Regions from separate parts of the Homo sapiens genome. Here region 2 is linked to region 1. The links come from fine-mapping of genetic effects on gene expression. Tissue or cell type: thyroid. Region 1 holds a variant in brackets; the other region holds the start of a gene. All regions are shown on one strand. Distances are between the middles of the regions.

Region 1 (5,930 bases):
CCAACAAATCCCAAGTGGGATAAAAAAAAATTTTTTTTTGAGACGGAGTCTCGCTCTGTTGCCCAGGCTGGAGTGTAGTGGCGTGATCTCGACTCACTACAACCTCCACCTCCTGGGTTCAAGCGATTCTCCCGCCTCAGCCTCCCAAGTAGCTGGGATTACAGGTATCCGCCATCATGCCCGGCTAATTTTTGTATTTTTGTAGAGAAGGGGTTTCACCATGTTGGCCAGGCTGGTCTTGAACTCCTGACCTCAGGTTATCCACCTGCCTTGGCCTTCCAAAGTGCTGGGATTACAGGCATGAGCCACTTTGCCTGGCCAGATAAAATTTTTTTTTAATTTGCTGAGTGTGGTGGCTCACGCCTGTAATCCCAGCACTTTGGGAGGCCAAGGCGGGCAGATCACGAGGTCAGGAGATCAAAACCAGCCTGGCCAACATGGTGAAACCCGTCTCTAGTAAAAATACAAAAATTAGCCAGGCTTGGTGGTGCATGCCTGTAGACCCAGCTACTTGGGAGGCTGAGGCAGGAGAATCGCTTGAACCCGGGAGGCGGAGGTTGCAGTGAGCTGAGATCGCACCATTGCACCCCAGCCTGGCGACAGAGCGAGATTCCTCTAAAAAAAAAAAATTAATTTACACCTAGAAAAGCTTACATAGTGTATGATTCCAACTATGTAACATTCTGGAAAAGACAAGGCCATGGAGACAGTAAAAAGATCAGTGGCTGCCAGGGGTTTGGGGTGAGAGAGGATGAATAGATTAGAACAGGAAATTTTTAGAACAGTGAAACTATTTTGTATGATGCTGTAATAGTATATACATTTCATTATAAGTTTGTCAAAACCCATAGAATTTACAATACAAAGAGTGAACCCTAATGTAAACTATGGACTTTGGTCGATAACGATAATGTTGGTTTATTGATTGTAACAAATGTACAACACCCATGGAGGATGTTGATGTTAAGGGGGGCTGTGTGTGGAAAACGAGGGAGGGGCATGTGGAAACTCTCTGTACTTTGGTTTTTTTTCTTTTTCTTTTTTCTTTTTTTTAATTTTGAGACAGGGTCTCACTCCATCGCCCAGGATGGAGTGCAATGGTGCAATCACAGCTCACTGCAGCCTCGACCTCCTAGGCTCAAATGATCCTTCTAATAGCCTTCCTAGTAGCTGGGACTACAGACGTGCACCACCAGGTCTGGCTACTAATTTTTGTATTTTTTTGTAGAGATGGGGTTTGCCATGTTGCCTAGGCTGGTCTCGAATTCTGGGATTAAGCGATCCTCCTGCCTTGGCTGGGATTACAGGCATGGACCACTGCATCTGGCCAACTCTACTCTCTACTTGATTTTGCTGTGAACCTAAAACTGCTCTAAAAAAAAATGAAGTCTATTAATTCAAAAAGAATTTGCACCTAGACATATGTGGTGAAATAGCAGAATACCAAAGACAAAGAGAATATCTTAAAAACTGCCAGGAAAAAATGTCAGATTATCTTCAACAGAGCAAGGTAAGCTGAGAGCTAACTTCTCAAGAGCAACATTAAAAGACAGAGGATAGCAGAAAGATCATCTTCAATGTGCAAAAAGAAAATAATTGCAGGCCAAGAATTCTATACCCAGTGAAAACATCCTTTAAGAATGAATATGAAATAAAGACATTTTCAGACAAACAAAAGCTGTAAGTGTATGTCACCAATGGACTTGGAGTAGAAAGAAAAAAAAGCTCAAATTGAAGGTCAAAAATGCTAGAAAGAATGAAGAGAATTCAAATGGCAAATACATGGCAAATCTAAATGAAACTCGATTGTATAAAACGTTAATAATAGTGGTTAAAATGGAATTAAACTGTTGTAAGTTCTTTACATTGTCTTGGAGTAAATGTATCAATTAACTCTAGACTTGAACAAGTTAAATGTTCAGATTATAACTTCTAGGTTACTGGATAATGAGTAAAACAGACAGTGTAATTTCCAAATTAGTCGAAGAAAGCAGAAGTTTTTTTTTGGGTGAGATCTACTAAAAACAACAACAACAACAACAACAAAAATTAATATCAGACAAAATGGACTTTAAGGCGAGAAGTACTATTAGGAATAGAGAAGATCACTGTATAATAATAAATGGGGCTGAGCACAGTGGCTCATGCCTGGAATCCTAGCACTTTGGGAGGCAAAGGTGAGCAGATCCCTTGAGCCCAAGAGTTCGAGACCAGCCTGGGCAACATGGCTAAATCGCATCTCTACAAAAAATACAAAAATTAACTGGGCATGGTGGTGCATGCCTGTAGCCCCAGCTACTCGGGAGGCTGAAGTAGGAGGATCACTGGAGCCCAGGAAGTGGAGGCTGCAGTGAGCCATGGATCGCATTACTACACTCCAGCCAGGACAACAGAGTGAGACCCTGTTTCCAGAAACTGTAATAATAGTAATAATAATAAATGGATCAAGTCATCAGGAAGATATATCGACTTATATACAACTGAAAATCAATGAGAAAAAAGATAACCAAATCAAATGTTGAACAAAATACTTGAACAGGCATTTAACAAAAAGGAAAACCAAATTATGAATAAACATATGAAAAGATGCTTAACATCACTAGTAATCAGAGTACAAATTAAGACCACAAAAAGATATCACTACACACTCACCATATTGGGATAATTTACAGTTTTAACCATATCATGTGTTGGAAATTTCTAGACCTACAGAAAAATGTGACTGTTAAGAGAAAAAATAGATAGTAGTATCGGAACCACAGTGCCCCACATACTGGAGTTAGCAGACAAAAAAATGTAAGATAACCAATTAATATGTTAAATAAAATAGATGAAAAGATTGGCAAAGTAGATAAAAATAGAGATTGTCAGCAGAGGAAGTGGGATATCTTTCAAAAATAAAATGTTCTAGGACTGAAAAATACAACATCTGAAATTAAGAATTTATTGAATGTGTTTAGCAGAAGGACAAAGGACAGGGTTAGCAAACGAAGACAGGTCAACAAAAAATATCCAAGCCAGAAACACAGAAAAAAAAATAGAAGAAGGAACAGAGCGTAAGATTTGTGGGACATAGTTAGTAGATCTAACATTTGTGTAACTGTACTTCCAGAAGGCAAGAAAAAACTGAGGAAGAAGCAATATTTGAAGTAATATGGCTGATAATTTCCCAAAACTGTTGAAATATATCAACCCTTAAATTTAAGAAGCTTAGTAAATCCAGGTAGGATAAAAACAAAGAAAAGCACACAAGCGGCCGGGCGCGGTGGCTCACGCCTGTAATCCCAGCACTTTGGGAGGCCGAGGCGGGTGGATCATGAGGTCAGGAGATCGAGACCATCCTGGCTAACAAGGTGAAACCCCGTCTCTACTAAAAATACAAAAAATTAGC[T/C]GGGCGCGGTGGCGGGCGCCTGTAGTCCCAGCTACTCGGGAGGCTGAGGCAGGAGAATGGCGTGAACCCGGGAAGCGGAGCTTGCAGTGAGCCGAGATTGCGCCACTTCAGTCCGCAGTCCGGCCTGGGCGACAGAGCGAGACTCCGTCTCAAAAAAAAAAAAAAAAAAAAAAAAAAAAAAAAAAAAGAAAAGCACACAAGCATATCATTGTTAACAGCTGGAAACGAAGACAAAGAGAAAACCTTAAAAGCAGCTAGATAAGCTACGTGATGCCTACATTTCAACAGACACTATAGAATCCAAAAGGTAATTTTTTAAGTTCAGAAAAAAGAAAAAAACAAAAACCCTGCTAACCTAGAATTCTATACTGAAAAAAAAATGCGTAAGATTTAAGGTAAAACAGGCCGTGTGCGGTGGCTCACGCCTGTAATCCCAGCACTTTGGGAGGCCGAGGCGGGCGGATCACAAGGTCAGGAGACGGAGACCATCCTGGCTAACACAGTGAAACCGCATCTGTACTAAAAATACAAAAAAAAAAAAAAAAAAAAAAAAAAGAAAGAAAAAAATAGCCAGGTGTGGTGGCGGGTGCCTGTAGTCCCAGCTACTCGGGAGGCTGAGGCAGGAGAATGGCGTGAACCCGGGAGGCAGAGCAGCCTGGGCAACAGGGCGAGACTCCATCTCAAAAAAAAAAAAAAAAAAAAAAAAAAGGATTAAGGTAAAACAAAGACATTTATATACAAAGAAAAGGCTGAGAAAGTGCATTGCTAACAAACCTTAATAATGTTACAAGAAATATTAAAGGAAATTTCTTCATGCTGAAGTAAAATGATCTCAGATGAAAGCACAAACTTTACAAAGCCTGGCGTGGTGGCGCACGCCTGTAATCCCAGCTACTTGTAGGGCTGAGGTCGGAGGATCGCTTGAGGCCAGGAACTCAAGACCAGTCTAAACAACATAGCAAGAGCCTGGTCACTTAAAAAAAAAAATTGTCAGAAAAGAGGGGAGTAATTTCTTTTTTTTAAGCACAAATCTTCTGGAAGTAATACAGGGCACCAAAAAGGACAAATATATGGACAAAAATGAAATAATTAACTAATAAAATAATAATAGGAACGCCTTGTAGGGCTTATAACAGGTAGTAAAATACACAATAATAGCACATAGGGTGGAAGGCAGGTAAATGGAGTTGAACAGTTGTAAAGTTCTTGCATTGTTTTCTTTTTCTTTCTTTCTTTTTTTTTTTGAGACACAGTCTTATTGTCAGCCAGGCTGGAGTGCAGTGGCACGATCTCAGCTCACTGCAACTGCCTCCTCCTTGATTCAAATGAGCACATCCTCCGGCTAATTTTCATATTTTTAGTAGAGGCGGGGTTTCACCCTGTGGGCCAGGCTGGTCTCAAACTCCTGACCTCAAGTGATATGCCTGCCTCAGCCTCCCAAAGTCCAAAGTGCTGGGATTACAGGTGTGAGGCACCACACCCGGCCAGTTCTTGCACTGTTAAAACCATGGGAAACATTAATTTAATATGACAATATATCTGTAATAGGTCAAAGATGCATATTTAAATATCTAAAGTTAAAACTTTTTGTAAAAACGTATGAATAGAACCTAATAGAGGAAAAACTGAAATAGTGAAAACAACTTGATTATCCAAAAGAAGAAAATAATGAAGGAATAAATGAACAAAGAGCAAATAAGACAGAAAAACAAATAGAAAGATGGTAGCTCTAAATCCAACTATATCAGTAATTACATTAAATGTACATGATGTAAACAAACAGAAAGACACATATTGTTAGAATGGATTTTTGTTTAAAACCCCAATTACATTTTATTTTTAAGCAACACAATTTTAATGTAAAAACACAGAAAGGTGAAACAAAAAGATGAAAAAGTATATACCATTTAAATACTAATTTTTAATAAGTTGGTATTACTACATTAATATCAAATAAAATAGGCTTAAGACAAACAGTATTACTAGAGGTAAGATGGACATTAAATAATGATAACAGATTTTTCCAGCAGGAAAATATAACAATTCTAAACTTGTGTGCACCAAATAACACAGCTTAAAAATATACAAAGTAAGAATTATTGAGACTGAAAGGAAAAATAGACAAATATGCAGCCACCACTGGAGATTTTAACAAAATTTTTTTTTTGAGACAGAGTCTCGCCCTGTCGCCCAGGCTGGAGTGCAGTGGCAGTGGTGTGATCTTGGCTCACTGCAACCTCCGTTTCCCGGGTTCAAATGATTCTCCTGCCTCAGCCTCCCAAGTAGCTGGGATTACAGGTGCCCACCACCACGCCCAGCTAATTGTTGTATTTTTAATAGAGACGGAGTTTCACCATGTTGGCCAGGCTGGTTTAACACACTTTTTAAAAGAAACTCAAACAAAAAATCCGTGAGGAAATGGATTATTTGAATAAAGTGGTTAGCCAACTTAACTCAATTGACACATATAGAATATATATGGAGAATACACATAATTTTCAAGTTCATATGAATGATTTACAAAAATTGACCCTATGCT
Region 2 (5,930 bases), 41 kb after region 1:
AAGGATTGTTTGATAAGCTGCTTGGAATGTCAGTGAGTTCTCTAAGAGGCATGCCTCAATCATAATGGCTGGGAGTTGATTGCCTTCCTAGAAGATTCTGTCTGGGTAAATATTAGGCTCTTGCTTTGCTAGTAATTAGGGTGAGCAAATGTGGACCACAGCTGAATTGTTTAGGACAGGAAAGAGAAGCCAAGGACTGTCAAAAGAAACCTTCCTTTTTCTAAACCTTCCTCCACATAATGTTGTTCCTCCTCCAAATAAATGTTAAACTAGTTTTAGTTGAAATTGAGAGCAAAACCCACAAACAATAAAAAGGAAGTCAGGAGAGGCAGAAAAAAATGCACAGAACAGAAGAATGTGTCATTAAGAGTTAAACATCATCAGAAACAGAAGAGATATGCATAAAACAAGAACACTATGCTATGGAAAAGAAACAATCAGAGAACAAGAAAGAGCTCTTAGAAATTAAAAATGTAGGCCAGGCGCAGTGGCTCACGCCTGTAATCCCAACACTTTGGGACGCCAAGGCAGGTGGATCACCTGAGGCCAGAAGTTCAAGACCAGTCTGGACAACATGGTGAAACCGGTCTCTACTAAAAATACAAAAAATTAGTTGGGCCTGGTGGGGGGCGCCTGAAATCTCAGCTACTTGGGAGGCTGAGGCAGAAGAATTGCTTGAACTTGGGAAGCGGAGGTTGCAGTGAGCCGATATCATACCATTGCATTCCAGCCTGGGCAACAAGAGCTAAACTCTGTCTCAAAAAGAATTTAAAAAAAAAATAAAAAAGAATAAAAATGTAATAGCTGTTTGGTCAGGATAGGGTCAATGCTGTAACAAACCATCACAATCTCAGTGGGTTGTGACTAAGAAAGCTCATTTCTTGTTCCCATCACAGTCCCATTCTTCCCCAAGTCACAGGAAGGAATTAGCTCCATGTAGTCATTCAGGGACCCAGGCAACTTCCTTCATGAGGTCTTGCCATCTCCTAGGGTATTGAAGTACCCTACTTCTAGCCAGCAGATGAAAAAGAGCAGGAGAAGAAAAGAAGATACAGAAAGAAAATAAAAGTTACTGGGCACCGTTGGGGAAGTTGGGGCACCAACTTATTACTCTAAAAATTGTTAATTAAAGGAAAAGAATTAAGCATTTTTTATGCCTAACTGCATTTTCTGGTAATTAAATAGCCAAAATGAATGAAGGAAAGCTCTTCTATGCAGAAGAATTTCAGCTACTACATGAAGAAAAAATTAGAATCAGAAAATTATCATTTTTTAAGCCCCTAAGAAAATAACTGATTCAAGCAATGGTTTTCAATGGATGCCAAAATCACTCAGTGAAAGGTTGATGGAGAACTTCTCAGTGAAGGGTAAGGTTGCCATTGCCTGAACCTAAAGATAGATCTTAGCATCATTAAAAGCAAGACCAGCAGACATCATATGCCTCCAGGTGTGATGCACTGGAGACTTACAAGGTATCCCATGAAGTATAAAGAAGCAAGTGACTGTATCCCTAGTGTAAAAACTCTACATGAGAATTGACACAGTTTCTTCAGGAAGTCAATAGCACTGAGAACAAATATAGGAAGAGGAATTAATTTATGTTAAAAGAGAGTTAGAGGCTGGGCACAGTGGCTCATGCCTGTAATCCCAGCGATTTGGGAGGCTAAGGCAGCCAGATCACTTGAAGTCAGGAGTTTGAGACCAGCCTGGCCAACACGGTGAAACCCTATCTCTATTAAAAACACAAAAATTAGCCAGGCGTGGTGGCCCACACCTGCAGTCCCAGCTACTCAGGAGGCTAAGGCGCGAGAATCGGCTGAACTGGGGAGATGGAGGTTGCAGTGAGCCAAGATCACACCACTGCACTCCAGTCTGGGTGACAGAGCGAGACTCCATCTCAAATAATAATAATGATTTTTAAAAAGTCAACTAATAACATAAGGTGATGAGTCTGGAAAGGATGGCAAGAAAGCACACTTCATAAATATGAAGGAAAATGAAGAAAACACTTGTGTTAGGGTTCTCTAGATGGACAGAACTAATAGGATATATATATATATATAAGGGAGTTTATTAAGTATTAACTTACATGATCACAAGGTCCCACAATAGGCTGTCTGCAAGCTTGAGGAGCAAGGAGAGCCAGTCCAAGTCTCAAAACTGAAGAACTTGGAGTCTGATGTTCAAGGGCAGGAAGCATCCAGCATGGGAGAAAGATGTAGGCTGGGAGGCTAGGCCAGTCTTGCCTTTTCACCTTTTTCTTCCTGCTGTATATTCGCTGGCAGCTGATTAGATGGTGCCCACCAGATTAAGGGTGGGTCTGCCTTCTCCAGCCCGCTGACCCAAATGTTAATCTTCTTTGGCAACACCCTCACAGACACACCCAGGATCAATACTTTGCATCTTTAATCCAATCAAGTTGACACTCAGTATTAACCATGGTAAGTCCACCCCTTGTCAAGCTGAACCCATACACATCTCCTGAGATCATACATAATCTTCAAATAAAGACAATAATAAGGTCATAATTATGCCTAAAATAATACAACTATCCTTGGTACAACTGGAAACCCACCAATCCCCAACCCAAATATTATTACATAAAGTTAATAATACTTAAATGTTGATATGAAGTCAGTAAATCTTATGTCACATGATAAAGGAAAAGGAAATAAAATGGATATATTTTCTTCGTACAAGTGTATACATGCACAAACATGTTTTTAGCCAAAGAAGGAGGAAATACTCATGATAGTTACAGTCCGCATTTCTGCAGCTGGTCACATGGTCATAGGTGGTATTGATGATTACCTTCTTCTACTACCCATTCTGTATTCCCTTTGCCTTCAGCAAGCACCTCAGCAGGTTGTGGTTTTTTTCCTGGTGGAGTGACCCAAACCTTCATTCCTGAGGGGTCTGGGCTATTTGTAGTCCTGCCTGGATTGCGCTATTGTAGTTTCCCATTGACCTTAATCAAAGGGCATGGTAATACTAAGAGATGCTCTAAAGGATGTCCTGTATTCCATGCATACTCTTCCTTACCTCTGTTATGGAGTAGTAGACTGATTTTATCTTGATAGTTCACCTTCCCACTCCATCTCCCTTCTGGCTCCCCCATCTGCTGAGAGCTACTTCCACTCAATAAAAACTTGCACTCGGTCCCTAAGCCCACGTGTGATCTGATTCCTCCAGTACACCAAGGCAAAAACCCTGGGATACAGAAAGCCCTCTGTCCTTGTGATAAGGCAGAGGATCTAATCGAGCTGATTAACACAAGCTGCCTACAGATAGCAAAACTAAAAGAGCGCTCTGTAACACACACCCATTGGGGCTTCAGGAACTGTAAGCATTCACCCCTAGACACTGCCGTGGGGTTGAAGCCCCACAACCTGCCCATCTGCATGCTCCCCCTAGAGGTTTGAGCAGCAGGGTACCAAAGAAGCGAGCCACACCCCCATTGCAGGCCCTGCGAGGGGGATAAGGGAACTTTTCCCATTTCACTTGTGCTGTGATTCAGTTCCCTGGGTGACTCTGCAGGGAGGCTGGAGGGAGAGAGTTCTCCCAGAGGGACCATCCCACACCCACTTCCACCTAAGAACACCCCAGTGGGGCAGAGCAGGCCCTCCCTGCTCCACCCCAAGCAGGGCTTGTGCCCTGGCCTTTCTGGGGTGTGCTCCTGCATACTTCAAGCTCAGCCAACATGAGATACTCTGACTCAAGTGTAGGGTCAGGTGGGGAGAAATGAATGAGACCGGATCAAGCCAACCCAAGCCTATGCACCGAGTTAAGGGTGTACACACTCACTGGGCAATGGGGCAGGGTATTATCGTCCCCATTTTATGGATGAAGATATTAAAGTTCAAAAGTTTAGATGGCTTGCCCATGGTCTCACAACTGCTGTGGAGTGTGGTAGTGAAGTTCATGGACTCTGCAACCAGACTGCCAACCTTTGAGCCTGTTCTGCTGCTGATCTGGGCAAGTACTTGACCTTTCTGTGCTTCCATTTTCCTCTGCCAAATGGTGAGGCTAACACATGCTACTTGGTAGGGTTGTTATGAGGACTGAATAAGCCAATACACATGAAAGGCTGAGGATAACTTTTCCTTTGCAGTCACAACTACGCTGTTAGGTATAAGAGGCCTACCTTTCGGCCTATTTTGGCTTTCAATACACTTACCTCACTAAGTTTAATATTTCTAGCTTTTGATTTAGAGCAAGGGATGTGTGACATTTTCACTTAAACATGTAGAGACCATTTTAGGGTTATTCATTGGCCTAATTTTAATATTGTTGGGTCTCAGGGAATTGAGAGGCCTGAGGAGAAGGAGAGAGGAGTAGAGGAACCACTGATTGATGTAGTAGTTAGAACACATGCAATATTTCTTAAGTTCTCTGTCTTATATGGGTGCAATTTGTGGCACCCCAAAACAATTACAATAGAAACATCAAACATGAGTGATCACAGATCACCATAACAGATACAGTAGAAATGAAAAAGTTTGGGCTGGGTGTGGTGGCGCACACCTGTAATCCCAGCACTTTGGGAGACTGAAATGGGCAGATCGCTTGAGGTCAGGAGTTCGAGACCAGCCTGGCCAACATGGCGAAACCCCATCTCTAATAAAAATACAAAAAAAAAAAAAAAATTACCTGGGCGTGGTGCCTTGCACCTGTTGTCCCAGCTACTTGGGAGGCAAAGACACGAGAATCAGTTGAACCTGGGCAGAGGTTGGGGTGAGCCAAGATTGCATCACCATACTGCAGCCTGGGTAACAAAGCTAGACCCGAAAGGGAAAGGAAAGGAAAGGAAAGGAAAGGAAAGGAAAGGAAAGGAGAAAGGAGGAAGGAAGGAAGGAAAAGAAAGAAAGAGAGACAGAAAAAAAGAAAGAAAAGAGTGAGTTTGAAATATTGTAAAAATTACCAAAACATGACACAGAGACACAAAGTGAGCACATGCTTTAGGGAAAAAGGTGTCAGTACACTTGCTCAACAAGGGGTTGCCACAAACTTTTGCCAAAATATTCAATTTGTAAAACAAAACAAAACAAAACAAAAACACAACAAATATCTGCAGGTGCAACAAAGCAAGTGCAAGAAAATGAGGGGTGCCTGTACTGTAAATTGCTTTTGTAAAGATGCACAGCTCTACCAAGTGCCACGAACAATGAGCATAGCTTCCCTTCCTCCACTCCTGACCCTGAACACCCCTGCCCAAGGGTTCTTCTTTTTTGCCACTGTGATGAGCAACCAGCTCAAGCCAGCCCAAGTCAGCTCAAATGGCAAAAACTGGTCCAAACTTGCCAAGACCTTCCTTGGCCTCCCGAGTCCGTACTGTATTGGATCCAACCAGATAAAACCAGCTCAAACTGGCCCAAACCCAATCAGCCATGTCAGTCCAAGCTTACATATTCTTCCAACCTTTCCAACTTTTGTCCAAATCTCCTCCTGGCTTCCTGAGAGCCACCGCTTGAACAAAAGCACACACTCCCCACAGTACGCAATGTCACTCAGGCCCTGGGCAGCCTAACTCACATGGGCTCTATTCAACACATGCTGCAGCGTCAAAACTCTACTAAAAGAGATAGTTGGGTTGTTTTGTTTTGGTTTGGTTTTGCCTTAGCCAAAGTTTGTTTGTTTGTTTTGATTGCACTTTGAACTTGCACTTTTTTATTTTGATTTGCACTTCACTCTGAACAGACTAAAGAGGAAATTTCTTGGCAGGAAAGTGAGGGATCTCAGAGAAAGCAGGCGAAGAATTCAGCCTCAGGAAAGACAGGAAACCAGGAAATGGAAAGCCATCAGGAGTTTCAGGGACACTTCTCTCATTCATGTCTCCATCCTGAAGTGGAAACTGAGGCAGGAGAGCAGCTTGTTCAAGGCCAACAGCCCTTTAGGAGCAGAGCCTTATCAGGGGCATTGGGGCCCTCACC

Which allele goes with the higher level. Alleles are on the strand shown, and positions count from the first base shown. SD is a standard deviation of normalised expression in the study named.
As copies of C replace T in region 1, the expression in thyroid of the gene that starts at base 2,491 in region 2 goes down (small effect, 0.22 SD a copy in GTEx).

The links. PIP is the estimated chance that this variant, and not a neighbour inherited with it, causes the effect.
Region 2: LINC01226 starts here. The variant in region 1 is the best candidate, but not a certain one, in a credible set for the expression of LINC01226 in thyroid (GTEx, PIP 0.81).

What each region holds. Positions count from the first base shown.
Region 1 is chr1:31,555,589-31,561,518 of GRCh38, reverse strand. The region is part of intron 2 of LOC124903917 (a long non-coding RNA gene); the gene reads right to left. Among named protein-coding and RNA genes, the nearest start is that of TINAGL1, 18 kb to the left of the region's middle. The variant T/C (reference allele first, on the strand shown) is at 3,392.
Region 2 is chr1:31,514,996-31,520,925 of GRCh38, reverse strand. LINC01226 (long intergenic non-protein coding RNA 1226) reads right to left here and starts at 2,491. Exons shown (of 3, transcript NR_027085.1): 1 at 2,090-2,491.